Regions from separate parts of the Homo sapiens genome. Here all the other regions are linked to region 2. The links come from fine-mapping of genetic effects on gene expression. A gene starts in region 2. Each other region holds a variant in brackets. All regions are shown on one strand. Distances are from middle to middle. Region 1 overlaps MYO9A (myosin IXA). Region 2 holds the start of MYO9A (myosin IXA). Region 3 overlaps MYO9A (myosin IXA).

Region 1 (10,291 bases), 290 kb after region 2:
GTGACAGTATGCCTTGGGGATAATATGAACGTGCCATGGTTCTCCCTACAGGTGCTGTGTAATAGTTCTGGTCGACATTGATGACTCTTAGGAAGTCTTAATGGGATCTTTATTCCTGAGTTCCAGGATCCCAGGTCTTGAGTTTGGTTTATAAGGGGATATAAGACTGTTAAAATACTTTCTTGGTCTCTCATGATTGATTCTGGAATATAGGCCAGCTAAAAAAGCAGCTGGGGCTCAGCTGTAAAAAACATGATAAGGCAAAGATGATGTACATTGACCAGGGGCTATTTGCTAGAAGAGTGATCTGAAAAGAAGACCCAGTTTGGCTTTGATGCAGATGATATTGGCAGTCTTGAAGGATTAATAGGAATTTTCAAGGAAGGGGAGAGTCTCTAGAAAAAGAAAGAAGAACGAGCAGAGTCTCAGAATGCACATGGCCTCAGACAATTGTAATGCTGGTGATACTGTTCTTGAAATGATTGTTCATGGATCTCAAGCCAGGTAAAGGGGAAGTAAAGGTAAGGGGCTCTGTTAGGGAAGAGACTTGATTAGAAGGTGAGTAAGAATTGGAAGGATAAGGAGGTTGTGAACAGGGTGGAGTGTTGGATTCAGAGTAATGACAAGCTCCAGGATCTGTGCATTGGAGAAAGTAGCTTAGATAAAGTAGAGGAGAATATTGTTAGAAGTTGCAGACATAAAGGAACTTCAGTGTTAGAATATTCAGATGAGTTTTTACAAAGATATTAATTGAATAGATCAGGTGATGTCAGGCATTAGTGAAAAAGCAAGATTAGGATCTGAGTACCAAAGACCTCACAGAATGTGGGGCATTACTGAGAGGTAGCTGGGTGACCGTGATGAAGAAGGGAGACTAGAGAATACGACAACTGAAGATGGCATAAGCTTCAAAGGACAGAAAAGATCAATCAGTGTTTTTCTTCGTCTAGAGGTCTCTGTGGTGAAGATAGAGGGTATCGTCTATAGCCAGTTAGTAAGCTTCATGGAAAATAGTTTAAGAGCTGGAAGGAATCTTAGAGGTTATCTAGTTTAATCTCTTTGTTTTGTGGTAGGAAGCTGAGGTCCAGAAGAGAAAGGTACTTTCCTGATGCATTATGGATATTATGAACAAGGTTAGAGCCCTGATCTCCTGCTTATCAGTCCAGAGTTCATTTTACTGAAAGATCTCACCACTACATCTTTCTTCACCCTACCCTTACCCCTATTATTGGTCCTAGATTGGCTATCTGTCATTTTGTCCTTTAGTCCATATAGTTTTAGCCTTCACCATATTTGGCATACAGGTCCTCATCACCACCTGGATGGGGACAGTAAAAATGGACTCTCTTTGCTTCTTAGATTCCTGACTTCCATGGAGGATCTTTTTTTCTGTTATCTTCCTTCCACTTCCTATCAAATGCTAATGGTTTCTTGATTGTGTCTTACAGGGAGGAGCTAACATTTGAGATGCTTGTACTGGAACCCCGTGCCTCTGATGATGAAACCCTTGAGTCTGAGGCCTCCATTGGGACTGCTGATAGCTCAGAGAATTTGAATATGGAGTCTGAATATGCTATCTCTGAGAAATCAGGTAAGTGAACATGGTAGACCAAAGACTCCAGATTTGTTTTGCAAAGGAGGAATAAAGATTCCAAAACTAAGACAAAGTCTTTTAAGAATTTACTGACTGTACATCAGCAATAACAAAGTCTTGAGGAATTTTGTCCTTTTATCCATATAATTTTAGCCTTCATCGTTTGGCATACAGGTAGTGACCTGGATGGGGATAAGAAATATAAGGGGATAAGAAATATAATTGTCTTTGCTACTTAGATTCCTGACTTCCACGGAAGGTCTTTTTTTTCCTGTTGTCTTTGTAAAGCTTCCATATACATTGTTTATCAAACCAACTCTTCAACGTGATTGAGTTTTTTGTTTTTTGTTTTGTTTTGTTTTGTTTTTTGGTAATTTAATGTTTTATCCTGTACTTACCACAGAGAAAAGCCAATAATCACAATATATGTTGTCTTACTGACCCATAACCCATTTTCTGAGGGTGGCAGGCATTGTGCCCCCACTGTGAGGTGGGACTATATACATATACAAAGGAGGTGTTTAACTGGGTGGCATGTCTCAGGGAGATGTAGGACTTACCTGCATATCCTGGCAGTTTTTGAAATGATAGTGACTGTTCTAGGCCTCCGCTGATGGCATAGTCAAACACCAGATTTCCTTGGAGATGATTCGGAAATGCTACATAGAGAAATGGATGGTGAGCTCTTACTGTGACTGTGCCCATAGTAAGTCATCCTGGACCCTCTGAATCTTATCCCACCCAATTTCATGTGTGAACAGTGGCATCTATTCATTATATGATGATTTGCTTTAGAGGGCACTGTCATTTACATCTTTGGTCTCTTTTTTGCATTAGAAAGAAGCTTAGCCCTTAGCTCCCTGAAGACAGCTGGCAAGTCTGAACCTTCCAGCAAGTTGCGAAAGCAACTTAAAAAGCAGCAAGACTCTTTAGATGTCGTGGACTCTTCGGTCTCCTCTTTATGTCTGTCTAACACGGCATCATCTCATGGGACCAGAAAACTATTTCAGATTTATTCCAAATCTCCATTCTACCGAGCTGCCTCAGGTAATGAGGCCCTGGGAATGGAAGGACCATTGGGCCAGACCAAATTCCTGGAAGACAAGCCTCAGTTCATCAGCAGAGGAACCTTCAACCCGGAAAAGGGCAAACAAAAATTAAAGAATGTGAAAAACTCACCTCAGAAAACCAAAGAGACCCCAGAGGGGACAGTCATGTCTGGCCGCAGAAAAACTGTGGACCCAGACTGCACCTCCAACCAACAGCTAGCACTCTTTGGAAATAATGAATTTATGGTCTGAACCGGCAGATGTGTGTCCCTCCGTGGCTACAGAGTGGTAAACAAATCTCACCTTTGGGGCTGCGTTTCATCACCTCGTCCACAATAGTCAATCCTAATTGTGGTCCTGCCTCTTTTCTAAGCATATGGCTAAGACTGTATGTGCTGAATTCCTGGGCCTCCTGCAGAAGCAGAAAGCCTGCTGGGGATGGTGCCAGCTGTGCCTTGGCTGTTGTATTTGAATTGAGATTTTTACTATACAAAGCCACCTAGGGCCTGGGGATTTGGGTCAGTTGTAGTTGCCTCTCCCCCACCCTCTTTTCCCTTCCCAAAGGTGGGTGTTGAACTAGGGGGGATATTGCTGTCCTGAGGGACCCTCTCATTTCTGACATTTGAAGAAAACGTATAAATCTTTCTTAACCGTGAAAGCAAAAGCCTTTGGGTTTATTTTGGGATAGTTAGGAGCTAGGGTAGAATATAATTTTTTTCCAAAAACTTACTTACAAACAAAAAGCCTAATCCCTCTATTTTAAGATTTCTGAAAAAACACTCCATGTTATATTCTGGGGAAAGCAAAAACAAAAAAAAAAAACAAAAAAAAA[AAAACAAAAAAAAAC/C]CGTGATTGTTTCCATTAAGCCATCAGAGCGTGTCTCAGATATCTTGTTATACAGTGAAGAAGAGAATACCTATTTTTTTTGATGATGTTTGATGTCATAGTAATCAGTGCTGGTTTAACTCCTGTTTAGTTCCTGCCAAATACATTGCATGGGCTGAAGTGTCAGTAGCCATACTGTTCTCATGTTTCTTGGTCCTAGGATCAGATTCTTCTACATTATTTTTTAGTTTCCCAGAGACATGGTGATCCCTAAACTTATGAAGGTTTCATCCTAAGCCATTCAGGCTTTTCTCTTTGTATAGATTAAACCGAAAACCGCATATGAGCCTGTTCATCTGCTGGTGGATTCCCACCACAGACTCAGACTCAAACAAACAAACAAATAATGTGACCGTTTAGTTAGTTTCCAAAAACATTCACATACAATATTGCATGAATAAGTAAGTAAGTGTTACAGAAAGCTGCCAAAAAATAAAAAGGTTTTTAATATGACCTATCTAACTAACTAACTTTTATCTTCCTTTTCTCAGACTATCAGTATTAAATAGATGGAAAAAAATCAAGGACTACTTGAAGCTATTTTTGTTAATATTCTGGTTACTGAAGTTTATTGTAAATATGTATGTATAGTAGGCATATTTCTTTTTAACCTTGTGCTTCCCTCCTTCCCATGGAATTTCTTCCCACAGATGAGGGGCCACTGGACAGGGGGATGAGAGCCATTCGTCCCTGGGTTGAGGGAATTAGTAAGACATCATTTTCACCACTGGGTGGTCTTCATACACATGAGTTATAATAGCATTTTAAGTATCTTAGCATTTGTGGGATTAGAAATCTGTTTTTGCTATTTATAATATATAAAAAATGAAACATGATAGCCTTTCTTGAGATAAGTATGTGAAATGTTTATTTTTAAAGTTACTAAATGCATCTTGTCTTGCTACTACATGCACTGCTCTGAAAAAGAGCCTTTACCATCTATAACCTGTATTTTGGGTATTCTTCCTTTTCATACTTCTTTGAAGTTGTGGAAATATTAAGTCTTTTGTTAAGGCAGAGTCTCTCTCTCCTGTTACACAACACTGAACCTCACGCCACTGCCTCAGTGGTTATTGGCCAGCCCCAGAGGTTAGACTTGGAGCATAATTCTGAGTGGCAGCTAAAGGTAGCAGGAGTCTTACCTCTCCCTACTTTGGGTTCAGAATTGAGCCAGAGAAAGGAAGCCATTAAAATCTCCAGAATAATGATAGTTAATGAGCAAATGTTATGCTTTATATCCCACAGACATCTGCCACCTTGTTCATCTTGTCCTGAGGAGTAATAAATAATGTTAAGCTTTTAAAAATCTGAATTTCAGAGAATCTCCTAGAGGATAGAGGAAAACCCCTCAGCATGGTGTGTTAGAGTGGGATTGCTGGTTCCTCAGCCCCGTGCCAGGTTGCACAGTCTGTGTTTCAGTGTTCTTGGGAGAGTAGTGTACTGCTGGGCATTAATTGTTACTCTGCACTTGCTCCAGAATGTTGGTTAAATCCTGTATGAAAAAAAGAGATTGCCCTTATGGAATAATTTCCTGTGGCCCAGAGGAATGGCCAGAAGAACATATGTTGGCACATGTTCTTCCTTCTAAATCTTTGTGGGGCTTTTTTGGCAAAATAAGTTTTTTGGCAGTTAAAAAACGACTGATGTAGGTCACTTTAAAGGAACTAGGTGATGGATGTTAAGAGACTTTATAATTTTTCTCAGGGACCTGAAACTCCAGTTTGGATAAAATTCAATTAAAAAAACTTGTTTTTTCAGTTGCTAGATTTGTGGATTTCTAGTAATTTAATCTGCCAGGATTGGGGTGGGTGGGTGAGGAGGAGAGAGCCACAAAATGATAAGAGTGGAGAGCAGTGTGGGGCCCTCCCTTTGAGGGAAAGCCGTTGTTTACATAGGGTAGTAGGCCTTGTTGGCCTGATCAAGAGATGAAGCCATAACTCTTAAAAACCTTCAGAACCAAACGCTGTGTCTGCATCCATCTGTTCTCACTGGCCCTCTGCATGGTAAAGTTATGTCACCACAAAGTGATGCCGCATTACAATCACTTATGAAACTGTTAGCCCTTAATATGCATCACATTTGTGGTTCCATAGTGCTTCTCCTTTGCTTGTTTGATCTCTGCATGGCAGCAGTGGGGCAGCTCCACATTTGGAGCCCATACTCCAAAATGCAGAGCACTCTTCTCACAGCACACATTCCCAGCCCCAAACAAAACCTGAATTTTCAACTCTGCCCATTAAAGTGAATGTATCCCTGTAATTTAGTATGTACTTATTATGGAAAATGTAACAAAAGCAGAGAAGTGTGATTTCATTCTGTATCACAAATTGAAGCAAATCAACAGCAAATACAGCAGGATTCAGGGAGGCTTAGTTTACAACGTACTTTGTACCTCCTGCCATTTAAATTATTTTGCCACTCTGGGCTTCTGAAAACACAAAGGGAGATACAGCCCTCCAACTATGAGCCTTGCAGAGAGAGACAAAAGGGCCAGAGGTCCTGGGATGGAATACTAGAGCCCCCACCTTCTCATGCTTTGGAAACCTGCCAGAGCACTTACCCTGCTGGAAGATTAATGAAGACTCCATTCTGTGTTTCATAACAGTAGCGTTGTTTTCTCCATCAAAAACAGAGGGTCACAGAAATGTGCTGAAAAGATGTGGTCCAGCAAGGTTCTGTAGTCCCACCTCAGTGCCTGTGGGCTGTGTTTTTCACTGTAACAAGCACTTTGGTAAACTAGAAAGAAGAAAGGATTCTCAGGATGTGTTCAAAGCTAAGAGAGTTTTCATTTTAAAAAGAAACATACATACTCACTCCATGGCTTTCCTCATCCTCCTCTCTTTTTTCTTCTTGGTGGGAAGCTGGATGCGGGGCATGCATCATTCTGTATGGACAAATGTGTTATGTCCACCCATACTCTTGTGACAACTCCCCAGCACTGTCCTGCAATACCATGCTGGCCTTGGTAGTAAAACTCCTTGGTATCTGTGAGAGTCCTCTTTTTCTATGCCCTAGACTACTTTTAACCACTTTTCTCTGGAATGACTCCCACATTTGATTGGGTATTGAAAGGGTAACAGCAAAATGATGATTGTGGAGATGGATCTATTAGGTCTCATGTTGGTCCCCTGGTTGAAACTATTTTCAAAAAAGCCCCAACAATGGGCCTGTCACCTTGCTAGTCATCCATTCTTAATGCCTATTTATCAGCCCTCTGAGGTCATATAAAAGTTGCACCTTTTGAACCAAGTATTTGTATTTACTATGGGAAAGGTGTGGACTACAGATTCGTATTATATTATTTTAATGGATTTTAAGTAATTTATAAGTATGCTGAGTGTAAATTTTTTTTAAAAACTGTATTATAAAAGGACATATCCTGTGAAATATAACATTTTACTGTTTAATAGAATAATTCTATAAGAAGAATGATTTATCTCACCCACGGAACTGATTACATTCCGGATGCAATCAATAGGCACTTTGTAATTTCCTTTTTGTTTTTTTTTCTTTGCTGGGGGGTTGAGGGGTAACAAGATACCATCTGTATAAAGTGCAGTTTGTGTCACTCAAAATATGCACTGTATGGCTACACAAAAGCAGCTTGATGAACAAATCACCCCATGGCTCATTAAAGAACAAAGCTTCCAGAAGCAGCAATATGTGTGGTTTGTTTTCCAACCATCCTGGCTCCCACTCCAACTATTCCAACCCAACTCCAAGAAACAGCAGTGACTTCTTAGTTACACTGATGTGTTTTCAGGAAAGGACTCAACCCAAAGTTGACAAAGCACAGAGGTGGTAGTCACTGGAACTCAACTGAATTCAAGTGAAGGTGTGATTCAAGGTGTCGTTTTTTCTGTAGTGGATGCAGGCTGCTGGCTGTCAAGACTTCATTTAATCGGTTTAAGGCTAGAAGGGAGGAAAAGCAGTAAATCTGCATTTAGGATCCTCCCCTAAATTGGCCACTTGAAGAAGTTGCTAATAGAGGTTGCCAATAGAGGGCCCAAGGATTCTCACTGAAATTCAAAGCAACACATTGCAATAGGAACAGAAATTTTAACTCAGTTTGTCATTTTTGTTCTGCTACCAACTTTACTGCATGTCTGGGAAAGGCATTCGCTCTCTCTGAATGTTAGTTTTCTTATCTGGAAGTCAGTTCTGTTTCCCAAACTCCCAGCTTTGGAGAACTCCTACTGACTCGCAGGTTTTAGTATAAAAGGTAGTTGTCCTAGGAAGTTTGCTCTGACCCTGTGAATTGGGTTAGAGGTCTGTGTTCTCAACAGCTCTCAGTTTTCACAGCGTCAAACACTTACCTGTCTTGCTGACTCTTAGATCCCAGCACCTAATAAAAGGTGCTGGCTAGGCAGATATTGGATGAGAGGATTGACTAGGATCAGTGGTTCCAAAATGCCAAATCAGGTCTGAGGTTACATGGGGAAAAAAACATGTCCCTAATGCCAAATGTATTCAATTTTTAAAATTCTGGGGTCATCCTTCTCACTTGTTTTTACGTTACATTTACATTTTCATTTTTGCATTAAATTTATATTACATTGAAATATGAAGTGTTAATTGTTTAAAATTCCCTTAGTTGCCCAAATAAAACCTAGAAATACCATTTTTATTTATTTTTATTTTTTTGAGATGGAGTCTCACTCTGTCACCCAGGCTGGAGTGCAGTGGCACAATCTCGGCTCACCGCAACTCCCACCTCCCAGGTTCAAGTGATTCTCCTGCCTCAGCCTCCCAAGTAGCTGGGACTACAGGTGCCTGCCACCATGCCTGGCTAATTTTTGTATTTTTAGTAGAGACGGTGTTTCACCATGTTGGCCAGGCTAGTCTCAAACTCCTGACCTCAGGTGATCTGCCTGCCTCGGCCTCCCAAAGTGCTGGGATTGCAGGTGTGAGCCACCACACCCAGCCGAAATACATTCTTAAAACTTGCCCCTGAGATGATTACTGAGAAGACAACTATTGTGATTATGAAGACCTGAGAACAGAAAGGTATATAAGGAGAGGCAAGTTATAAAGTGACCACAGCTTTGGTTTGGTTTGTTTTTTAAATTGCTTTTGCCCCTAGAATGGGTGGCAGTACAGTGTCTTAGAGCCAGAGATATAAACATGAAAGTAGATAAAGTACATGTAATATCTGACTGTTGAATCTTGTAGGTATCTCAGACTCACAGTCAAGGAGTGTGTCACTTCCAGGTAGTGCCCACAGGCATTGTCCTAGGTGCTTAGGGTACATTAGTGAACAAAACAAAGATCTCTGCCCTGTGGAGCCTGCATTCTAGTGGGGAACACCAGTGATGTCCACCAGATAGAGACTAGTCATCCATGATACCTGGGTTTGACTATGAGGTTGCGCTTCTTGGCATCTTTGAGTCTTTCCCTGCCCTTCCTACCTTGAAATATCCCCTTGTGGGTAGAGGAGTGTCTCGTGAATCTAAAAACTAGCTTTATTTGAAAAGAAAGGCCCAGATAGTCCCACAGGGACTACCTCTGTGGTGCTTCATAGCCAAAGATATTTCTGGCATTGAGGGGGAAAAAAAAAAGCTTTCAAATTATCTACCCTCCTAATAAGGACCCTAAATGCAATGGAAAAGCCATTACTCATCAGAATTTCTGTAGAGCCAATCTACAACAAGAAGTTGAATAATGGCTGCCATCATCCTAGGTGGTTTACAAACAGGAGTTTGTATTCTTGTCTGTAAGACATGCTGAGAGCTGTACCAGGTTAGGAGAACAGAGGCCACTTTGTATTCCAGGTGAGATGGACTTAATACAGAAATTAGGATCTAACAAAGGTCAGAGATATTCCCACAGGTCAAGAAAGCCAACGCAAATCTCAGCTACAAGTTCCAGAGGAGTTCTCAAGAGCTTGCCTGGAAGCTAGTGCAATTCTAGCCAGGAGGCTGCTATGAAATCTATTTTCCCACGACAGGGCTGCAGTGTCTCCAAAGAAAAATGGCTTCTCTTTTTCCTAATGCCAAATTTAATCAGTTTGGCATTAGGGGGGAAAAAATCTCCTGTGAGTGTCTTTCATTAGCAAATCCTAGGGGAAAGGGTTTCTGGGAAATGTAGTTCCTTCCTGGCATCTCTGCAGTGAAGAAAAGCCCTTAGAAGTGGGGGAGGGGTGGTATTGATGCCCGATTGACAGCAGACAATCCAGCTTATGTACTTCCTCTAATTCTCCAAGACTTCTTGGAGAGCCCTCAAATCTCCTTCCCAATGTAGATGTGCTGGGCTCACACATCCCAGATGCTAGCCTGTGAACTTCAGCAGGCTACCTTTGCAGTCTTACCATGTCCTCCAAAGCCAAACTGTAAGATACATACGCAGGGCTGGTCATGTCATATTTCAACCATGTGTCTTACTAAGGTGGCTTTGCTCAGGGCTTAGCTCATATGGATAAAACTTTTGATAGGGAATTGGACTGTATAATGGCATTATAGACATTAGTTGACCGATTAACTGAGGCCACTCTGATACTTTGAAAAGTTGGAGAGAATCTGAAGTAGCCTAGGGGCTGAAGTAAGAAGGGCTTCAGCTGGGCAGCATTTGCCATACTCTTTCCTCTCTGGCACCAGCCCTAGCGGTTCTGAGTTCCTGAGTAGATAGGGCATTTCTGTCAGCTAAGGGAATTCAAACACAAGCCAAAGGACAGGGAACCCCTAGGATTTCTCAGCCTTCTCACATGACCCTTTCTGTCTTGATTTCAAACACTTATCCTTTGAAGGCAGAAAATGCAACAGAATTG
Region 2 (10,291 bases):
TTTGCTTCAAATTTTCTGAGAAATGACTTTACACAATTGCAAACTTTGAAATGACTAGGAGTGAGGGTCAGGTGTGGAGAGGCCATTAGAATTAATAAGACGTCTGTGTAAGATAATATTTTATAAAGGTGTAGACAGAACTTTATTTTAGTACATGTGGTAACAAAGTCTGATAAGGAGTGGTTAAAGCCATGATTTACCTCATTTCACAGATAATCACTGTGGTCAGCACATGGCAGCTCTATGCAAACACACTATTTGAAAGAACACAAAAAAGCTATGATCTTTTAATCTCATTTGTTCTAAGGATTTCAAATCCTGGCAAGTTATTTTTTTCATAGATAGTTAAGAGGTAAATTGTCATTACAAATTGCTCATTAGTGGGTTTCAAAAATGTGCCTGGCACATAGTAGAGGTTCAATAAATATCTAATGAATTAATGAGTAATGAATCACACGACTTTGAGAGTTTTATTCATTGGCCATCAGGGAAAGCAAGCCTAAGGTTTTCAAACAATAATACAGATGCTCAAAATAGTAACTATAGTTGGGACAAATTTTTTGGGATCAAGACAATGATCCAGTGCTTTTATAAGTTGATTGTGGAGTAAGCCATTTAATTGGGAGCCAGAGAAAGGAACTTTCAGAAATTTTCTGTAAGTAATAAAAATTATTAAAAAGCCTCATAAAAGTATTATTTCTGATTTCAGATAGACCCACTCCTCCTCCTCCCGCAAAAGGTGTCAGATAGCTGAACCTCAAGTTCTGCATAAACTTAATTCTTCCTATCACCACCCAAATGGCCTCCAATTATTTGATGGACAGAAAGTCAATATAGGCTAGTTATGTTGAAGAAGGTGGTAATGGTGGCCTCTCTGAGAACCTAGTTCTGGAAGTTAATTTTATAGGACTCATTTGGATCAGTAATACCTAAACCCCAAATTCAATTTTTTAGAATACATTTAAAAAGTACATACTTTGGGTACTAGCTGGATTTGAGCAGTAAGTTTCTATAGTCCGGTATTGATCAGTTTCAAAGGAGATGGGTTGCCTGGGCCTTGAGGACTTCACATTCTTTTGCTAATGTGTTTAAACTAAACTTCTTTCCCATCCAAGAAGTTTAAGGAATTGGCAAAAAGAGAGGAGTTCTGACTTTTAAAAGTCAGAAATGTAGGACTCACAGGTATAGACAGGTATATAGACAGTACATACTTTGGGTACTAGCTGGATTTGAGCAGTAAGTTTTTATAGTCCGGTATTGATCAGTTTCAAAGGAGATGGGTTGCCTGGGCCTTGAGGACCTCCCATTCTTTTGCTAATGTGTTTAAACTAAACTTCTTTCCCATCCAAGAAGTTTAAGGAATTGGCAAAAAGAGAGGAGTTCTGACTTTTAAAAGACAGAAATGTAGGACTCACAGGTATAGACAGGTTCTGACTTTTAAAAGTCAGAAATGTAGGACTCACAGGTATAGATGGAGTTTGACTGAGGAAGGCCTTGGCAAGATCTGTGAACTTATGGTAAGGCCATTGCTTTATTAGAAGTACTAACAATATCATTTATAATACAAAAGACTGGGCTAGCCTCTTGACCACATAAAGTTAACTGACTCCCACACTGGGGTATATATTCCTGTTGACAGGTATGCCATTTATTCCAATGTATGTTACTCTAGACTGGTCAGCACATTGTGGAAATAAAGGAATTTAGCAGACTCTAGAGATCACCTCAAGATTTTTTTTGGAGACAGGCTCTCTGTCACTCAGGCTGGAGTGCAGTGGCATGAACACTGCAGCCTCGACCTCCTGGGCTCATGTAATCCTCCTGCTTCAGTCTCCCGTGTAGATGGGACCACAGGCAGGCACCACTATGTCTGGCTAATTTTCTTTTTTTTTTTTTGGAGAGACACGGTCTCACTTTGTTGCCCAGGCTGGTCTTGAACTCCTGGGCTCAAGTGATCCTCCTGCCTCAGCCTCCCCAAGTGCTGGGATTACAGGCCTGAGCCACTGCACCTGGCCCAAGATTCCATTTTTCAAAAATTAATTAACTTATTGTTCTAGTCTCTTCATTCCTATCTTCTCTTTTGATAATCTAACCTGCACATTATTCTAGATTTTCAAACAGAACTCTAATCACATTATTCTACTCCAAAAAATTTTAACAACCCTCCATTGTCTACCAAAGTAACTACAAATTACAGCCTGGCATTCAATGATTTCCACAAAAATAGCCCCAATCTACCTTTCCTGATTTATTTTCTGGTATTACTCTCACAGACATATACACCCACAAGCTCAGTCCCTCTGCAGGCCCTGGTTATTAGGAAACAGTGGGATAGTACTGGTTGCTGCCCCAGAGCCAGCCTCTCATCCCAGCAGAGAGGTTGGGAAGTGAACACTGCTTCATCATTTTTCTGAAACACAGATTTGATGTCATGCTCTTGCTTAAAACCATTATACTGAGATATTTTAAAACTTAGGATCCATAGACCAGGATGTGGCTAGAATATCAGGGTTCTGTGAACTTAGACTGGGAAAACAATTGCATCTTTGTTTTCAATAATCAGTAGCTGAAATTTAGCATTTCTTCAATAAGTGTGGACCACAAACTACAATATTAGCACTCTCTTTTTTACCAATAGAAATCTGATATTTTCACATCACATTAAAGTTGCTGCAGGCATTTCAAAATATAATTTATAGTCATCACTACTTAGAAATTATATAATTAGACCTGCTGCCAGATTTTATTTAATGCATAAAGTGCATATATATCACACATTTGTTTTAATATTTTAAAAACTTAACAAAATTAGTTTCCTTTATATTACTACGTATTCTATTTTATATATTTAAGAACATTTTTCTGAGACTGAATCTATAAGGTGGACTGCCAACAAGGTCCACTGGGTAAAAGAGGTTAAGAACCTTTTTTGTACTTATTAATTACTTCTAGTAATATAATCTAAACTCTTCACCATGGAATTCAAGGCTCCTCATAATCTGTTCACACCCACTTTATCATCTTCATCTCTGTCCCACCTCTACTCTCCATACTATGCTCTAGCCATACTAGACAACAATAACTCGTTCTTATCTGGGTCTGATAGACAGGTTTTTGGATTAACCCTAGTTAATAGATAGCAGCCATACACTGTCTTGGTCTTTACCTCATACAGCTTCTCTGCCTGCCAAGTGAATTCTTTGTTTAAAGGCCTGCTTTCCCTAATACGGTAATTTTCCATCCTAATTGAGCTGTATTTTAAATATCTTTATATCTCATTACTAACTTAAATGATAAATAATAGAAAAAGATTCTAAATTGGCAAGGCACTGTATGTAGTAATCTCTATGAGAGTGGATGTTGGTCTTTGCATCTCATAAATTGGCTTAGCTCTGGATGTTGGTCTCTGCATCTCATAAATTGGCTTAGCTCTGATCATTTTGGGGACAGAAGTGGGGATGGCCTTTGAGCTTTAAGGCTGGAGACAACAGCTGACCAATCCTGGACGGAAGGGAACGGGAGAGCAAAGAGACAAGTAACTAATTTGGACCTGATAAACACTGAGGAATGAACAGTGCTGAAGAGAAAGGCAAGAGTGGCTCCTTCTCCCATTTCCCAGACCAGTTATTCCAAACATAACGCCGCTCAAGTTTCTCATTCCATCTCCAAGCCTCTCTGTAGTTAAATGACCTCCATCTTTTTTTTCTGGGGGCGGGGACGGAGTCTCGCTCTGTCACCCAGGCTGGAGTGCAGTGGCGCGATCTTGGCTCACTGCAAGCTCCGCCTTCCGGGTTCATGCCATTCTCCTGCCTTGGCCTCCCGAGTAGCTGGGACTACAGGCGCCTGCTACCACGCCCGGCTAATTTTTTGTATATTTAGTAGAGACGAGGTTTCACCATGTTGGCCTGGATGGTCTCGATCTCTTGACCTCGTGATCCACCCGCCTCGGCCTCCCAAAGTGCTGGGATTACAGGCGTGAGCCACCGCGCCCGGCTAAATGACCTCCATCTTAATGTTACAGAGCCAACTGTCTCAACTTCCTTCTCTCTAGTTTAGTGAGTCTCAATCTTTAGCATTAGAGTCACCTGTGGAGCTTTAAAACAGTAATGACACCTGGCACAACCCAGAATTTAATTGGTCTAGAGTGGGGCAACAGTATTGGTTTTATTTAACAAAAAGTTTCCCAGGTGATTCAAATGCACATACAAGGTTGCGTTCCACTAGTGATCTTGATCTTATAAATTAGCCTCCCTCACCCTCGAAGAGGCCACTTCTCGGTTTCATGGTACGCTTTTGAGTCTTCTACCTAAACAGAAAACATTCCTGAGGGCCATATTCTCGTTCCTCATTTCTCTAACTTTATAACGATGCTTCTTTAAAGGGAAGTCTACACTAGTACGGTTTCCATCAGGTTTATTTTACTTCTTTTTTCTCTTTCAGACCACCACTGTCACATGCTCTTGCGCCCGTTATTCTGCTTTTACCTCCTTTCGTATTTCTTTGACCAGGTACTGGATTACTAGTCTTTTAACACAGTCCTCTAAAAGTGACCCAAAAGTCACCCTGGAAAGGGCTTCCTCACGTTATCCTCCTACACAACCTGGGACCCCTCTTCTGTGCGCAGACAGCATCCCGTGCATTTTTCTCTATTGTCACTTTATTGTACTACCACTGCGGATTCTCTCACGGTCTCCTATACAAAAGCACTTCAAAAAGCTGACACCACTTAATTCGCCTCTGACATTCTGGAACCCAAGGCATGGAAACCACTCAGTGAAAAGTCTGAGAAATGAATGGAAACGGAGGTCGGGGCGGGGACAATGGAGGGGGCAGTGGGTGGAGAGAGCGTGCGTGTTTGAAAAGGGGCGGGGGCTATGACCGGCGGCGCTGAGAATCCAGGTCCAGAATCGGGAGGGAGCACGGATACGCCAGAATCTGAGTGGGTGGGAGAGCGATCCACTGCCGAGACAAACCGAAGTGGGGAGGAGGCTTCTTACCTGCCTCGGGCCTCACCACCCCAACCAGCCTTCAGGCACCTCTGTGTTGGCCGGAAAGCGACAGCTACGGTCGCAAACTCAGAGGTTTCGTCCCCAACCTTGCGACATCCCTTTCCAGTACAGGGAGAATCTAAAGCTGAGTTCCCTGCTCTGCCGTAAGGTGAAGAAGAAAAAATTTGGGCGGGGCCGCCTGGGGCGTAGGAAAGGGGGCGTGTCTGCGCAAGCGCACGCTGTACTCTCCAGTGGCGTCACGTGCGGGGGCGGGACAGGGCGGGGCCGACCCGTGCTGGCAGTAGGGGGCGTGGGAGGTAAGTGCGCGCGCGCCTGCTCGCCTGCAGCCGGGGAGTCGCGCGGGGCGGGGCCGCGTGCGCGGGGTCGGGGGCGCGCGACCGAAGCGGATAAGGGACGCGGCGGCGGTTGGCTGTGTCTGTTGAGAGAGTACAGGACAGCCCGGACTGCGAGAGGCGGCGGCGGAGGCAGTAGTTGCACCGGCAGAGGCGGCCGCTGGCAGCGGTTGAGGCGGCGGTCCAACGCGTGCTCTCTGGGCGGGGTGCGGCGGGGGATGTGCCTGCTCAGGCCGGGCGGAGTCTCTCTGACAGGGCGGGGGATGCGCCGCGGCCGCTCGCCCGGACCCTGAGGCTGCTGGGCCCACCCTCCCGGAACCGTCCGACCCTCGGTGGCCTCGGCCTCTTCTGCCATCTCCGGTCCTACCCTGGGGCGGAGGGTGGAAGGCAGCTTCCGTCGAAGAGGAGGGGGCTGCGGTGGCCACCGCGGCGGAGCCCGAGGTAAGACCCGCCCAAGCGCCCAGCGGCCCTGCAGCCCGTCCTGGCCCACGTCTCAGCCTCGCTATTTGGCTCCGGTCGGGCCGCCCCGCCCCGTCCCAGCGGAGACGCCCCGCGAGCGGGTCTGCGCCGAGCCTCCCAAACACCAGATCACGGCCCCGGATCCCCAGTAGACCCCACCCCCTGTATCTTCCATTGGCCGGGCACCATTCCGGCCCTCCAGCCTCCCCGGAGATTCTGTCACGGTCCCCCCAACCCAGCAGACCCCATTAGTACCCCTCAGAGTCCCTTAGGACTCTTAATGGAGCTTCTAGACTACGTTACATCCTCCCTTGGGCTGACGTGATTACAGTTCTCAGGCAAAGTCTCGACCGCCCCCTAACCCATTGCGTCCCCCATGTGCCCCTCGCCCTACTCTTCTTAGTAGAACCCCTCCCAGCTCGCTCATCACCAAGCCGACTAGCACTAACCCTAGCCATCACGGCTTTCAGATAGCCGCTGTCATGGTGTTCTTACTCCCGGTAGATGTGGTGTCAGTCCCTCTAGACACCGTCACAGACTTTGGCTTCTCTCCCACCACCGACTGTAGCCTCTCTCAACAGACCTCTCCTCAAGCAAACCTTGTTATCTTTCTCCTTAGTCGCGATCCTTTCTTTGGTTGAAAGGGCTTTGCCATGAAATCCTGAGGGAATATTTGCTTAGCCTAATGTATTCCCTCCATTGTGGCTTAAGGGGACCGACCGAGACCCATGTTTGGAGGGGTTGGGCTGAAAAAAGTGGGAGGCAGAGTGAAGTTATGGAAGCATGAGGCCAGTTGTGTGTGTGCCATTATAAGGTCACAGAGCCTGCACCTCGTCTTGTCTGTTCTGTGTAGAACGTGTGAGGTTGTCCAGCACTGATGTTTTAGGGACCTCTGTAAGGATTAAATCACGTTGCACTAGTGGATATAACTATGTCGTCTTGTAGTATTACTTCACCTCCTTGTCGATTGCTGCAGATACTAGAACTGTTTCTTATTTTTATTTTTAAAGGATACTAGGGGACTTTTTTTGGATTCACTGTTTTTTGGATTTGCTAGAAAAATAAGATTTGTAGCATTCCTTAATCCCTGAATGCTTCGATGTCGGTTTAATAATAAACTTCTGTTGCCTGGTGCTGCTGTCTTGCTTCTCCAAGAAGCAAGTACAGAAATCATGCAGTGTTCACTGAGGTCATTACCAACAACAGCCTTCTCAATAGCAGTAAAATGTTGAATAAAATGTTTGTAGAAGTTGAGCTCCTGAGTTGTCAAGAAAGAAATGTAATGTTGCATCAAATGATCAGTACGTAATTTTAATATTGGTATAAAGATGAAATATAAAGAGGTCTTTGTAGTCATACACACACACACAGTAAAAAATGTTAAAGTAACAGGAGAAAATCACATTAAAATTATAGATAATAACTAGACGTAAAAGCCAAAAGTTTCGGAAGAGTAATGTAGTAAAAATTTCTGTTCCGCCTTCACTCTCCAGCCACCCATTTTTCCTCTTTAGAGGCAACCACTATTTCCAGCTTCATGTGTATCCTTTCTGTGATATTTCCAATATATAAACCTACACATTTATATTTTTAAGACACTGTACACAAATGGTTGCATACTTTACATTCTATACATAGCCTGTTTTTTTTACTTAATACTACATCCTAGAGGTCATTTCTTAACAATACATATGGAAGTGCCTCATTTACTGGCTGGATAGTATTCCATTTTTGTGGACTGGAGGTTATTTTTGGTGTTTTGCTTTTACCAACAATGTTACATGCTTTTCTTTTAAATGTGTCTGATGTTATATGTATGTTTAAATAATTTTGTGAGTTGAAAAAAATTCCTGATGATTCTTTTATGTTGAACCTACAGAAAGGATGTAACTAAATTTCTCATTGAACCTCTGAGCTTCCACAGTGTGACTAGCTGTGATGATGATTATAATATTTATTAAATTATTGAAGGATTTTAAAGCAGGGGACTGGAATGATCAGATTTGCATTTTAAAAAAGTCATTCTGGCTGCAGTGAATTGAAGAGTAGAATAAGACTAAAGGCCAGGAATATTAGGGTTATCCAGGCAAATGGTGAGACTGGATCTGAACTTGGATATTCGGAGTTGAGTTGGTGATTTTATTGTATTTGGGGTTGGGGAGAAGTTGCATACAGGATAAAATCTAGGTTTCTGGCTTGTGCCTTTCACTGAGGTGGGGATTCCCATGAAGGAGTGGGATTTTGTTTTTATTTTGTCAAGGAGGAAGGATAGAGGGGTTAATTTGTGACATGTTCAGTTTAGGTGACTGTAGTTCTGTCAGATGTAGATGACCATTAGGCATTTGGATTTGTGGCTGAAGCTCAGTATCAGGTTCTGGGTTGATAGCAGTAGATTTTGGAGGCAAAATCATACAGAAGGGAGGAGAAAAGGTTTTAGGATGGAAACCCAACATTTAAATTACAGGTAGAGTTGAATATTTAAATTAGTAAATTACATGATTAAGTGCCTTTAAAAAACTTATTCTAGTTTAAGCATTAACAGTGAGATTCACTATCTAATATATGAATTTTTAACAGTTGTTTTCCCTTAGTTATTTTAGTAGTATATAGTTCCTGAGGGAAATTGGGTAAACTTAGATTTTTTTTAACAAGTACCTCAATAGAAGTTAGCGATATAAACTCCATCTTTCCTAATCATTTGGATTATACTATGTGGAAGTTTGTTCAGTCTTTAATAGCAGAGAAATGTAGGAGGTTTGAAAATATGATTTGCCAAGAATATTAAGGTTTTTAGTTGGAGTGATTTTTGGTTATGTTAACTCAGTTTGAAATAAATATTAGTCAAAGACTTTTCAGACATTTTAAAAACCACAATATTGACTTAATGTATTGATTCCTAAGTCTAGAACTGCTGTCTAGAGTGCTTGCCTTTGCTCTAGACCCCTGTAAAAGCACTGCCTAATGGATATCACCACTTTGATTCACATTTCACAAACACTTCAATCCAAACATTTAGGAAACAAAACTCTTCCTGCCTCTTTTCCCCCCACAAAAACAGTGGAGAGAGAGCCGGAGACAGAAACTGCAACAAAATTTTTTCTTCCCCCCGATTTCCTACCTTGATTAATGGCACCACTCTTTCCTCATGAAACCTTCAGGAACCTGGGAATTGCCCTCCGCTTCACTCTGTACTTCACTGCCAACATCCAGTCTGTCACTGCCTTGTACATTTTCCCTCATGATATTTCAGGTCATTCCTTATTACTTTTTGTTGCCTCTATCTTATTTTAACTGAAAATATCTGTTTGTTGGGCTTCTGTAATGCTGAGTGGTCTTCTTGCCTTCTGTCTTCTGCCTCTTGTCATGCCCTCCTGTTCATTCTCTTGACTGCTGTTGGAGTAAGTATTCTAAAATGCTCTTTTAGTCAGGCTCTTTCACTTGGAGGGAAGAGACTCAAGTTACCTTAAGTAATGAAGTGCTTATTGAAAGGAACCATACACAAGGGAACCCAGGAAAAGTTAACTTGCTCTCAAGAAGAAAAAGAACCTAATAAAACTTGCTCTCAAGAAGAACAAGAACCTAATAAAGCTGGAGACCCCACTCCAGTGCTCCATTGTTAGCTTGTCCTAGATACCGTTTCTTTCTTCAGTTTTTTTCCCCCTATGTCATAGCTTCCATTTATTACTAATTTCTGCTCCTTATAACTACTATGTGACCCCCATGCCAACATCTTGCCTCCTGGCTGCAATTGTTTTAAAACGTTTTAAAAGAGGTTAGCTCCTGTTGCTAACCTCTTCCTTTTCCCTAGGATTTTCTGGTTTGAATTCCAGATTTGGCTCAGCTCTTTTTCTCATTGATTGCTAACAAGTCTGTGTACTTAGGTTATGTCACCACTCTTGGCCATTTATTGTTGGCTGTGTGTTTGTATGTATATATGGGTATCAGGAAAGATCTTAATGGTGGAAAGTATGGGACAGTGTGCAGGCTAATTTACCGCAAAATGGGGTTGTGAGCATGGCCCACACCATAATTTTGACATGTATAGTACAGATAAAAATCAAATCATGTCCTTTCCTATTGAATAATCTTCAAAAAAGCTGTCTCATTGCTTTCAGGATAGAGTTTAAACTGTAGCATGGCATGTGTATGAGATCATTCATGATCTAACTCTTAATTCTCTAGCTTTTCTTCACTTGCTGTCTTCCTTACATACTTTAATCCACTCTTACTGACTTTAGGCTTCCTCTCAGGTAATGTGCTTTCTCTCTCGTCTTTTACATTTGATGTTCTATTTCCCTGATTTCCACTTTCCCCTTTCTTTGCTTGGCTAATTTCTGTCTGACCTTTAGGATTCAGTTCAGGTGTATATTCTTCAGGAAGATTTCCTTTACCTCTTTTCAGATTAAGTTAGGTACCATTCTTATGTGCTCCTGTAGCACATAGTAATTACTTCTATCATAGTCCTCTAATGAAATAGCTTAATTACTTGTC
Region 3 (10,291 bases), 130 kb after region 2:
CTTTTTCTGATTTTATGTTGTAATTTTTTTGCAGTTAATTCTGTCATTTTTCTTGTTTTTAGTTTTGCATTTTGTATATGTATTTTACTTACAGAGGAAGGCCTCTTCTAGCCCAAGATTATAAAATATTTATTCTTATATTTTTATAATTATAATTTTTTTATGTTTAGACTTTTTCTAACTATATTTTTAATATGGCAGATTATAGGTATTTAATCATTTCACATCTAGTTGTGTTTTCTGGGCAGCCTTCATGGACTAGTCCACCTTGTCAGACTGATTAAAAATGTCACCTTTTAAATTTAATCCTATTGCCTTAAATGTGAAATTGCTCTTATGTTAATTTTTCATGCTTCAGGTAAACTCACAGTCATAAAAATTAATTTAAATTGTAATCTAATTTATCAAATTGATTTATTTTTGAAGGGCATTATTTTAATTTTTTTAAGGGCCTAGACTTAGCAGAATTAAACAAAATACTCTTAGTACAGGCTTTTAAAAAAGATCTTACTATTTTTCATTCATCATATCAGTTTGCCCGTTGTATCTCTTAGCACCAGTGGAGAAAAATTATTTTCATTTAACCAAAATTGTCATACAACTGTATTTCTAGAATGGGTTGGGGTGGTGAGAAAAGTGTTCATATGCAGGTATTAGAGCCAAATCCACAGTAAGAAGTTAGATTATTCCTAGAAGTGCAATAGAAGAATATAAGCATTTATGTTCTGTATTCTACCAAACAGCTGAAAGATTTGAATGTGGTTGACTTTAGGGAGCAGATCTTGATGATGAGGCAGGGATTGCTGTCTTTTGTTGTAATCCTTTTAGCACTATTCAACATTTTAAACCTCATACTTTTTTTTTTTAATAAATATTTTTAACTTTACGAAACCGTATGTTCTGGCCGGGCACGGTGGCTCACGCCTGTAATCCCAGCACTTTGGGAGGCCGAGGCGGGTGGATCACCTGCACTCAGGAGTTTGATACCAGACCGGCCAACGTGGTGAAACCAGTCTCTACCAAAAATACAAAAAATTAGCCAGAATGGTGGTGCATGCCATGGTAAACCCAGCTGCTGGTGAGGCTGAGGCAAGAGAATCGCATGAACCCCGGTGGCAGAGGTTACAGTGAACTGAGATCACGTCACTGTACTCCAGCCTGGGCGACAGATCGAGACTCCGTCTCAAAAATAAAAAAGAAACCATACGTTCTGACATCTAGTTTCACTCAGTCTTCATGAGGCTGATAAAATATACTAGTTTGGTTCTTAATGAAGAATTCTATTTATTGGGATGTAGAAGTCGAAATAGGAAAAATTGCATTGTCCTCTTGGTATAGCCAGGAGTAACCTACCTCTCTTGATCCTTCATTGAAATAACCTTTTGATTTCCTCACCCTCTGTTTTTTTCCATTCCCTTTAAGATGTTAGGGATTTCTGAGGTTTCTTAAGATAAAAGGCCACTAACCTTGCTTCACATATTTCTGTAATCTATAGATTATATGTATTAACAGTTTGGATATATTTTTTTAATTAGGATAAAAGTAAGATAAAGATAACTAAAATACTTTTAAGTCATGATATGTTTTGAATACTGGCCAAACACAATCCCCTGTACACTGCTTTAGAGGAATTGAGCATTTTGTTACTTATGTTGTGGATATTATTCATTAAATAAATTTAAACATTACTTTTAATCAAAACTTTCTCTTGTTTTACAGACATTGTCTATTGGTGTTCTTGATATTTTTGGGTTTGAAGATTATGAAAATAACAGCTTTGAACAGTTCTGTATTAATTTTGCTAATGAACGTTTACAGCACTACTTTAATCAGCATATCTTTAAATTGGAACAAGTGAGTACCTAAATATGTATACACTTGTCCCCCCATCACACATATCTTTGAGTCATATTCATAATAATTCACTTCATTTTTTCACACATTTTATTGATTTACATAGTGTTTTTATTAAATATTGAAACGTGCCTTTACAAACAAGAATAACCGAAGTAAATTGGCTTGGGAACAAATACCGTTGCCTCTTTGTTTATGTAAACTCAACTGATGGGATTAGAAATGTGAGATAAAACAGAGTAGTCTGGTAGCTTCAATTGTTTATCATAATATCAGTTGTGATATTTTACTAAAAGAGTGGAGAGCACATAATAAGCATTTTAAATCTTGTCTTTTTTTTTTTTTTTTGACTGAGTCTCGCTCTGTCGCCCAGGCTGGAGTGCAGTGGCCCAATCTCGGCTCACTGCAAGCTCCGCCTCGCGGGTTCATGCCAGCCTCCTGGCTCAGCCTCCCCGAGTAGCTGGGACTACAGGTGCCCGCCACCATGCCCGGCTAATTTTTTTGTATTTTTAGTAGAGATGGGGTTTCACTGTGTTAGCCAGGATGGTCTCGATCTCCTGACCTCGTGATCCACCCGCCTCAGCCTCCCAAAGTGCTGGGATTATAGATGTGAGCCACTGCGCCCAGCCTAAATCTTGTCTTTCAATACAAATATTGTGGTCCACATATCATTGTAAGCAGATGACAGAGGTTTTATAGTTCCCTAAATAGATTTGCTGGCTGGGCATGGTGGCTCAAGCTGACAATCCCAGCATTTTGGGAGGCCAAGGTGGGTGGATCTCTTGAGCCCAGGAGTTAGAGACCAGCCTGGGCAGCATGGCGAAACCCTGTCTGTACAAAAAATATAAAAATTAACCAGATGTGGTATTGCATGCCAGTTGTCCCAGCTACTCAGGAGACTCAGGTGGGAGGATCACCTGAGCCTGGGAGGTGTATGTTGCAGTGAGCTGTGTTTGAGCCACTGCATGCCAGACTGGGCAACAGAATGAGACTGTCTCAAAAAAAAAAAAAAATTGCTTATATATGCTTATTTGATTGCACCTTTGTTGTTTTTGCAGGGGAGTGTGTTTTTTTAGAGATGGGTCTTCTTGCTCTGTCGCCCAAGCTGAAGTACAGTGGCGTGATCTTGGCTCACTGTGTCGACCTCTGGGGCTTAAGGAGTCCCCCCACCTCAGCCACTCAAGAGCTGGGACCACAGGTGCACGTCACCACACCCAACTAATTTTTGTTTTTATTTTTTGTAGAGACAAGGTGTCACTATGTTGCCCAGACTGGTCTCAAACTCTTAGGCTCAAGCAGTCCTCCCACCTTGACCTCCCAAAGTGCTGGGATTACAGTCAGGAACTACCACTCCTGGCCTTGAATGAACCTTTGATTAAAAAGATGTGTGTGTGTGTTTTGTTTTGTTTTTATTGCTGGTGTTGATTGTTTTTTTCTTTTTTCTTTTTCTTTCACACAGGGGTTTGGAAACAATGGTGTTGATTTTTAATTGCTACCATGGGCTTGGTCACTGTGTGTAATGCTAAGTACAGTCAGTCAGTCCTCCTTATCTTTGGGTTTTACATCCAAGCATTCAACCCATGGCTGATACAAAACTACTGATACAAACCTGCATATACAGAGGGCTGACTGTACTAAGCCATTTTATATAAGAGACTTGCGCATCTGTGGATTTGGTATCCACAGGGAGTCCTGGAACCAATCCCTCGAGGATATGGAGGGCCAACTGTATGCTTGTTTGATTGCTTTGGTCTCTTAGTTCTAGGATGAGATAGAGGAGCTTAACAGAATCTCAAGTCAGTACAGAGTGTAGATACAAAGAAACTAGGTATGGAGAGACCAAGATGGGTAACTAGATATTTCTTATGAGGATCTCAAGATTGATTAAGTTAGTATAAAAAGAGTGTGCTTTTGGCTGGGAGTGGTGGCTCACACCTGTAATCCCAGCACTATGGGAGGCCGAGGTGGGCGGACGAGGTCAGGAGTTTGAGACCAGGCTGACCAACATGGTGAAACCCCATCTCTACTAAAAATACAAAAATTAGCCGTGTGTGGTGACAGGAGCCTGTAATCCCAGCTACTAAGGAGGCTGAGGCAGGAGAATCACCTGAATGTGGGCGGCGTAGGTTGCAGTGAGCCGAGATTGCGCCACTGTACTCCAGCCTGGGTGACAGAGTGAGACTCTATCTCAAAAAAAAGAGTGGGCTTTCAGTTTCCATGAAAATTATTAGTGCAAAGGGAGGGGCAAACAAAATGTGGACTTTTTCTCCAAACTAAGGTTGAAATCAGTAATAGGTTTACATTGTACCCCAGAATTTGTGTATGAGGACATAGGCAGACACAGGTTTCATCAAACTGAACTCAAGGGAAATAGTTAAGAATAGAGAATGAACAGAAAGACTACAACAGCTAGCAGGTCTACAGAAAAGAGGGAGAAAAGATCTTTATATCATCAAGTCTCCTATCATTGGATCTTGTTGCTGTCTTAGCTTTTTAAAAAAGTGCCTCTATTTTGCTTAAAGGACATAATGGCTGGTTAACAATAGCATGACAATATTAGTCCTGGCCAACTTGATGAATGCTTAAAGTTTTAAACATATAATCTGTTAGCTAGATGCTACCCTAGAGCTTTGGAAAGATATTATTTGTTATAATATTAGCTAACACTTACGAGTTATGTAGTGTTACTTATCAGTCAGTACTGTTTTTATTCTAGTTTTTCAGATGTTGTCTAAAGCCAGTATTCAAACCTTAACACTCTGGCTCTATAATATTTTCTTTTAATCAAAAGCTAAGCTGGGATTGCCATCCATGTCTATTGAATCAGTCCAAAACTCTTACATAAATCATACTAAGTTAATATTCTTTATCTCTTGCAAATAAGTACATGTGTTAGAAGGGTGAGGGAATGCATTTAGTTTTCTGGGTTCTATATTTTACAGAGCAGAACATCAGTTGCTCTGTGGATCATTAAACAGAACATTGGTTAAATTGATTTTGAAAAAGACAAACATTCTTTATTGTAAACTGAAATTATTCTTTTCTAGAAGTCTAGATTAGACAGCCAGAAGAAATGCCTTGGCCATAAACGTATTATATATAAAAATAAAAAACCTTAGAGTTTATGGAAAATGTGTTCAAAACTACTTGGAAGATGGGTGATTCTCATTTACTTGCTACCCTGAATGTCAGCATTTTGGGCAATGTGGTGCAATTATGGATCAGAATCTTGTTAAGTGTCTTATTTATATGTACCTCATTGGTAACTGGTATGAAATGGGTACTCAGTGATTACTTGTTAAGTTCAGTTGAGTATAAAATAAGTTAAGGTTAAAATTTTTAAAAAGAAGGTACAGTATCACAGGTACATTTGTAGGAAAAATCTTCAATATGATGACTGTGGTTTGGTTCTAAATTTTGTCCAAAAGGAGTACATAGGCATATAGGATGGGAGAGAGATGTAATAATTGCCATGCAGGATGTAAATGCTATAATCAGATATAAGGTAAAGTAGTTACACAAAGGATGGGGTTGATTGGAACTACCTGAAAGGCTGCAAAAATTTTCCAGGGTTGATTCTGGCATATAATTTCAAATAGTGAGCTGAAGCTCACTAGATTGTCAATGGGAAAAGATATTTTAGGCAAAGGTAACATTATACACATTGTACTTAAAACAGTGGACTTATATGTCATGCAGGGAAGATTAGAATTTTTCAGACAATGAGAAGCTATTTGAAGTATATTTAGCAGAGGACTTGAATTGAACTGAAGAGCAGTGAACTGGAAAGAAGGAGAAAAATCTATGAACTAGTTGAAGTACTGTCATGTGTCACTTAATGATGAGGATATGTTCTGAGAAATGCATCATTAGGTGATTTTGCTGTTGTATGAACATCATCCTGTATTTACACAAACCTAGTTGGTATAGCCTCCTACACACCTAGGCTATATGATATAGCCTATTGCTCCTAGGCCACAAACCTGTACAGCATGCTACACTGAATATTGTAGGCAACTGCAACACAATGGTAAGTATTTGTGTATCTAAATGTATCTAAACATAGAAAAGATACAGTAAAAATACAATATAAAAGATAAAAAATAGTACAGTTACATAGGGCACCTCCCATGATTAGAGCTTGCAGGACTGGAGGTTACTCTGGGTGAGATGTTGGGTGAGTGGTGATAAAGGCCTAGGACATTACTGTACACACACTAGTTAGACTTTATAAACACTGTACACTTAAGTTACACTAAATTTATTAATTTTTTTGTAATAAATTAACCTGAGCCTACTGTAATGTTTTTACTTTATAAACTTTTTTAACTTTTTGACTTTTGTAGTAGCCATTTAAA[A/G]CACAAACACATTGTACAGCTGTACAAAAATGTTTTCTCTTTATATAATTATAAGCCCTCTTTCTATTAAAATTTTTTAAAACTTTAAAAACTTTTTTGTTAAAAGCAAAGACACATACATACATGTTAGCATGTATACATACATATTACCATAGCATATTAGCATAGGCCTACACAGGGTCAGGATCAAGACGTCAGTAGATAATATGAATTTTTCGTGAGATTAGGGATCCCTGTTGTATATGCAGTTGGTTCTTGACTGAAATGTGTTTGTGTGGCACATGACTGTAGAATGGGTGAGTGATTCTGAACTGAATCAAGGTAGTGGTAGAGACTGTAATGTAGACTAAGAGACAGACCCAAAGAGGTTTCTGATATTTGAAAGTACAGCCATCCCTGGGTATCCACAGGGGATTGGTTTCAGGACCCCCTGCTGAAGAATACCAAAATCCACAGATGCTCAAGTCCCTTATGTAAAATGGCATAGTATTTGCACATAACCTATGCACATTCTCCAGTATACTTTAGATCATCTCTCAGTTTCTTATACTTAATACACTGTAAATGGTATGTAAATAGTTGCTATACTGTTTCTAAGTTTATATTTTTTGCATTTTTTTCTCTAAATATTTTTGATATGTGGTCGGTTGGATCTACAAATGTGGAAACTTTTGCAGATATGGAGGGCCAATTGTATGTTTTCTGTTACTTGTATTACTGCCCTCTTTTTTCTTTTCCTTACTTGCTGAGAATTACTCTTCATTTGATTGATTCATCAGTAAATTGAACAACAGTTGTGTGCCAGGCAGTGTGCTAAGCATAGAAGATAGAAAATTTAGAGTGCAGGGATCTTATTTGAGGAGCTCATAATCTAGCAAGTTTTTGTTTCATCCATTTTACTTGTTGTTGTCAGACTAGAAACTTTTGATGAACCTTACCTTGGAGAACAACCAAAAAACTTCAACAACATATATTTGAAGGCATTGGAGTACCTTCAAATAAGTTTTACAGGGCCTAGACTATAAGAAAGAAATCTAGGGAAGTGAGCCCAGCATTTGGGTGCTGCTTTGTTCCTAGAGACATTTCGTTATTTTTGTAGTGTTTCTGATTCTAAAAGGGCCAGGCTTGAGAGTATGAGGAATTGAGCAGGGTTTTCTTCTGACTCAAAAATAAGGAGGAGGCCCTTGGTAATTCCTATAGGCTTTAGGTTGAGATCCCTAAAGGGTTACATCTCAGACAAAAGTAAATCAGAAGTAAACCTGGCATCAGAAGGACTGAAGCCCAGTTTAAAATCATCTCAGTTCCCAATTAGGTTAAAATACAATTTGTAGTATTCTTAACCACCTGCCAAGAGCAAATACAATCTCCACCAGAAGAAGACATCATCCAACTGCTAAAATTATCTTTATAATTTTTCATATACAGGATCTAACACTCAGTCCAAAACAGAGAGAGAGAGAGACAGACAGAGACATAAAGACATACATGGAGGCAAACCAGCATGAATAAAAACCACGAGAAATGTGGCCGGGCATGGTGGCTCACGTCTGTAATCCCAGCACTTTAGGGGGCTGAGGCAGGTGGATCACTTGAGGTCAGGAGTTCAAGACCAGCCTGGTCAACATGGTGAAACCCCATCTTTACTAAAAATACAAAAATTAGCTGGGCTTGGTGGCACATGCCTGTAATCCCAGCTATACAAGAGGCTGAGGGAGGAGAATTGCTTGAACCCAGGAGGCGGAGGTTGCAGTGAGCTGAGTTTGTACCACTGCACTGCAGCCTGAGTGACAGAGTGAGATTGCGTCTCAACAACAACAACAAAATATCCCAAGAGAAATGAGATAATAATACCACAGTGGATCCAGCCAATGATATTAGCACTAGACATGGACTGGAAACTAACCATGCTTTCAAGAAATTTTAAAAAATAAGGTGCAATATTTTTATTAAAGAACTACAAATTACTTTTAAAAATCCCAAATTGGGGAAAACCTAGAACTAAAAAGTACTGTGAAATTGAAAAGACACAGATGGTTTTTAATAGTAAGATACAGGTTAGTAAAATTAGTAAATTGGAAGATAGACCAGAAGAAAATACTGAGCCTAATGAATGAAGATAAGAAAGAGACTTATACTCTAAGAGCATAGTAAAAAGGTCTAACATGTGCCATAGGAATTTTGGAAAGATGTGTATGAGAGACGTAGAATAAGTTAGAAGCCGTGTTTGAAGACATAATGGTTGAGAATGTTCCAAAACTGTCAAAACAAAAAAACAAACCCAACAAGCATACATTTGAAAAGCTCTTTAAGAATCCAAGGCATGTTAAATACAAAGATATTTATACCTAGAAAATTATACTAAACCAAAGACAATGAAAAAAGTCTAAAAAGCAGCTAGAGGAAACCAGAGACTACAGTTGCTCCTTGCCAAGCTGAAAATATTTTAAGTCAAAAATGCATTTAATGCATCTAAACTACCAAGCATCATAACTTGACATAGCCTACCTTAAATGTGCAGGACATTAAATGTGCTCAGAACACTTACATTAGCCTACAGTTGGGCAAAATCATCTAACACAATACCTATTTTATAGTAAAAATGTTGAATATCTCATGTACCACATATCACCAGCCTAGGCAAAGATAAAGTCTGCAGAAATTATGACAGTTTCACCCCATTGTAAAGTTGAATCATCGTAAGTCAGGGACATCTCTATCTTTAAAGATACAACAATAAGACTTGGCAGTCAGCCTTTCAGTGGAAATAGTGGAAGCTAGGAGACAATGGCATATTTTCCTTAAAACCAAGGTATATTGTTTAGGCAGCAAGTTGTTTCCTATTGTAGCTCAGGTACAGGAAGGAATGAAGAGCAATGAAAATTATAAAAAAGTCGTTGAATCTAAATGAATATTAATGAGGCAAAGTTAAAAATAACTTTTATGGCTTAAATAGAACTATTTAGGCTGGGCGTGGTGGCTCACGCCTGTAATCCCAGCACTTTGGGAGGCTGAGGCAGGTGGATCACCTGAGGTCAGGAGTGTGAGACCAGCCTGGCCAACATGGTGAAACCCCGACTCTACTAAAACTACAAAAATTAGCAGGGCGTGGTGGCAGCCGCCTGCAATCCCAGCTACTCAGGAGGCTGAGGCAGGAGAATTGCTTGTAGCTGGGAAGGGTTCGCGGAAGTTCCAGTGAGCTGAGATCACGCTATTGCACTCCATCCTGGGTGACAGAGCGAGACTCCATCTCAAAAAAAAAAAAAAAAAAAAAAAAGAAATAAAAAAAATAAAAAACTATTTAATGTTTAAATGTAACTAAAATACATGACAGTAATAGCATATAAGTTAGGAGTAAATAGAATTTAAGATACTCTAAGATCTTTGTATTAAATGCTAAGTTACAGAGATATTATTTCTGTTAGTGATAAGTTAAGGATACATGTTTTCTAGAATTGCCAAAAATAGTAAAATAATATAAAACTTGAAAAAAAATACAGAGGATAAGTAAAATAAGAACACTCAATCCAGAAGAAAGCAAGAAATAAAAGGAATGCCATGAAAGTCAAAGAACAAGTAGTAAGGTGTTTGATTTAATCTCACAAATATTAGTGATTACATTAAATATAATTGATTCATTGCTCTAACTAGAAGCTAAAGATTGTCAGACTAGATATAATACAAAACTAAACTGATTGTTGCTTATGAGAGACATTTTAAATATAAGTATATAGAAAGATTAAAAGGATGAGCAAAGATTTAGTAAACCTTAAGAAAAAAAGCAGTTGTAGCTATATTAATATCATATTTCAAGCATTACTAGAGATAAAAAGGAATATTTAATAATGTTACCCTTTAGCATTATTCACTTCCTTGGGAAGTAGTATACAGTCCAAAATTTATAAGCACCTGATAGCAGAACCTCAAAATATATAAAGCAATAATGAATAAAACTCAAAAAAGAAAAATATATTTACCATCATAGTGGAATGTTTTAACATACCATGCTGACTTGCTGATAGAATAAGTGTTCAAAAAGTTGGTAAGGATACAGAAGATTTAAAATATCTAGAAGATGAGAT

Evidence for each region. PIP is the estimated chance that this variant, and not a neighbour inherited with it, causes the effect.
Region 1: its variant is fine-mapped to the expression of MYO9A in whole blood (INTERVAL, PIP above 0.99).
Region 3: its variant is fine-mapped to the expression of MYO9A in whole blood (INTERVAL, PIP above 0.99).

The regions. Positions count from the first base shown.
Region 1 is chr15:71,819,184-71,829,474 of GRCh38, reverse strand. MYO9A (myosin IXA) reads left to right here. Exons shown (of 42, transcript NM_006901.4): 41 at 1,449-1,591; 42 at 2,432-7,184. The coding sequence ends at 2,895. Among named protein-coding and RNA genes, the nearest start is that of NR2E3, 14 kb to the right of the region's middle. The variant AAAACAAAAAAAAAC/C (reference allele first, on the strand shown) is at 3,476.
Region 2 is chr15:72,113,171-72,123,461 of GRCh38, reverse strand. MYO9A (myosin IXA) reads left to right here and starts at 5,312. Exons shown (of 42, transcript NM_006901.4): 1 at 5,312-5,782. SENP8 (SUMO peptidase family member, NEDD8 specific) reads right to left here and starts at 5,059. Exons shown (of 2, transcript NM_145204.4): 1 at 4,998-5,059. RefSeq lists a silencer at 5,191-5,960 and an enhancer at 6,161-6,370.
Region 3 is chr15:71,982,666-71,992,956 of GRCh38, reverse strand. It overlaps MYO9A (myosin IXA), which reads left to right. Exons shown (of 42, transcript NM_006901.4): 11 at 1,720-1,854. It also overlaps a transcript of MYO9A-AS1 not described here. Among named protein-coding and RNA genes, the nearest start is that of MYO9A-AS1, 5.6 kb to the left of the region's middle. The variant A/G (reference allele first, on the strand shown) is at 6,213.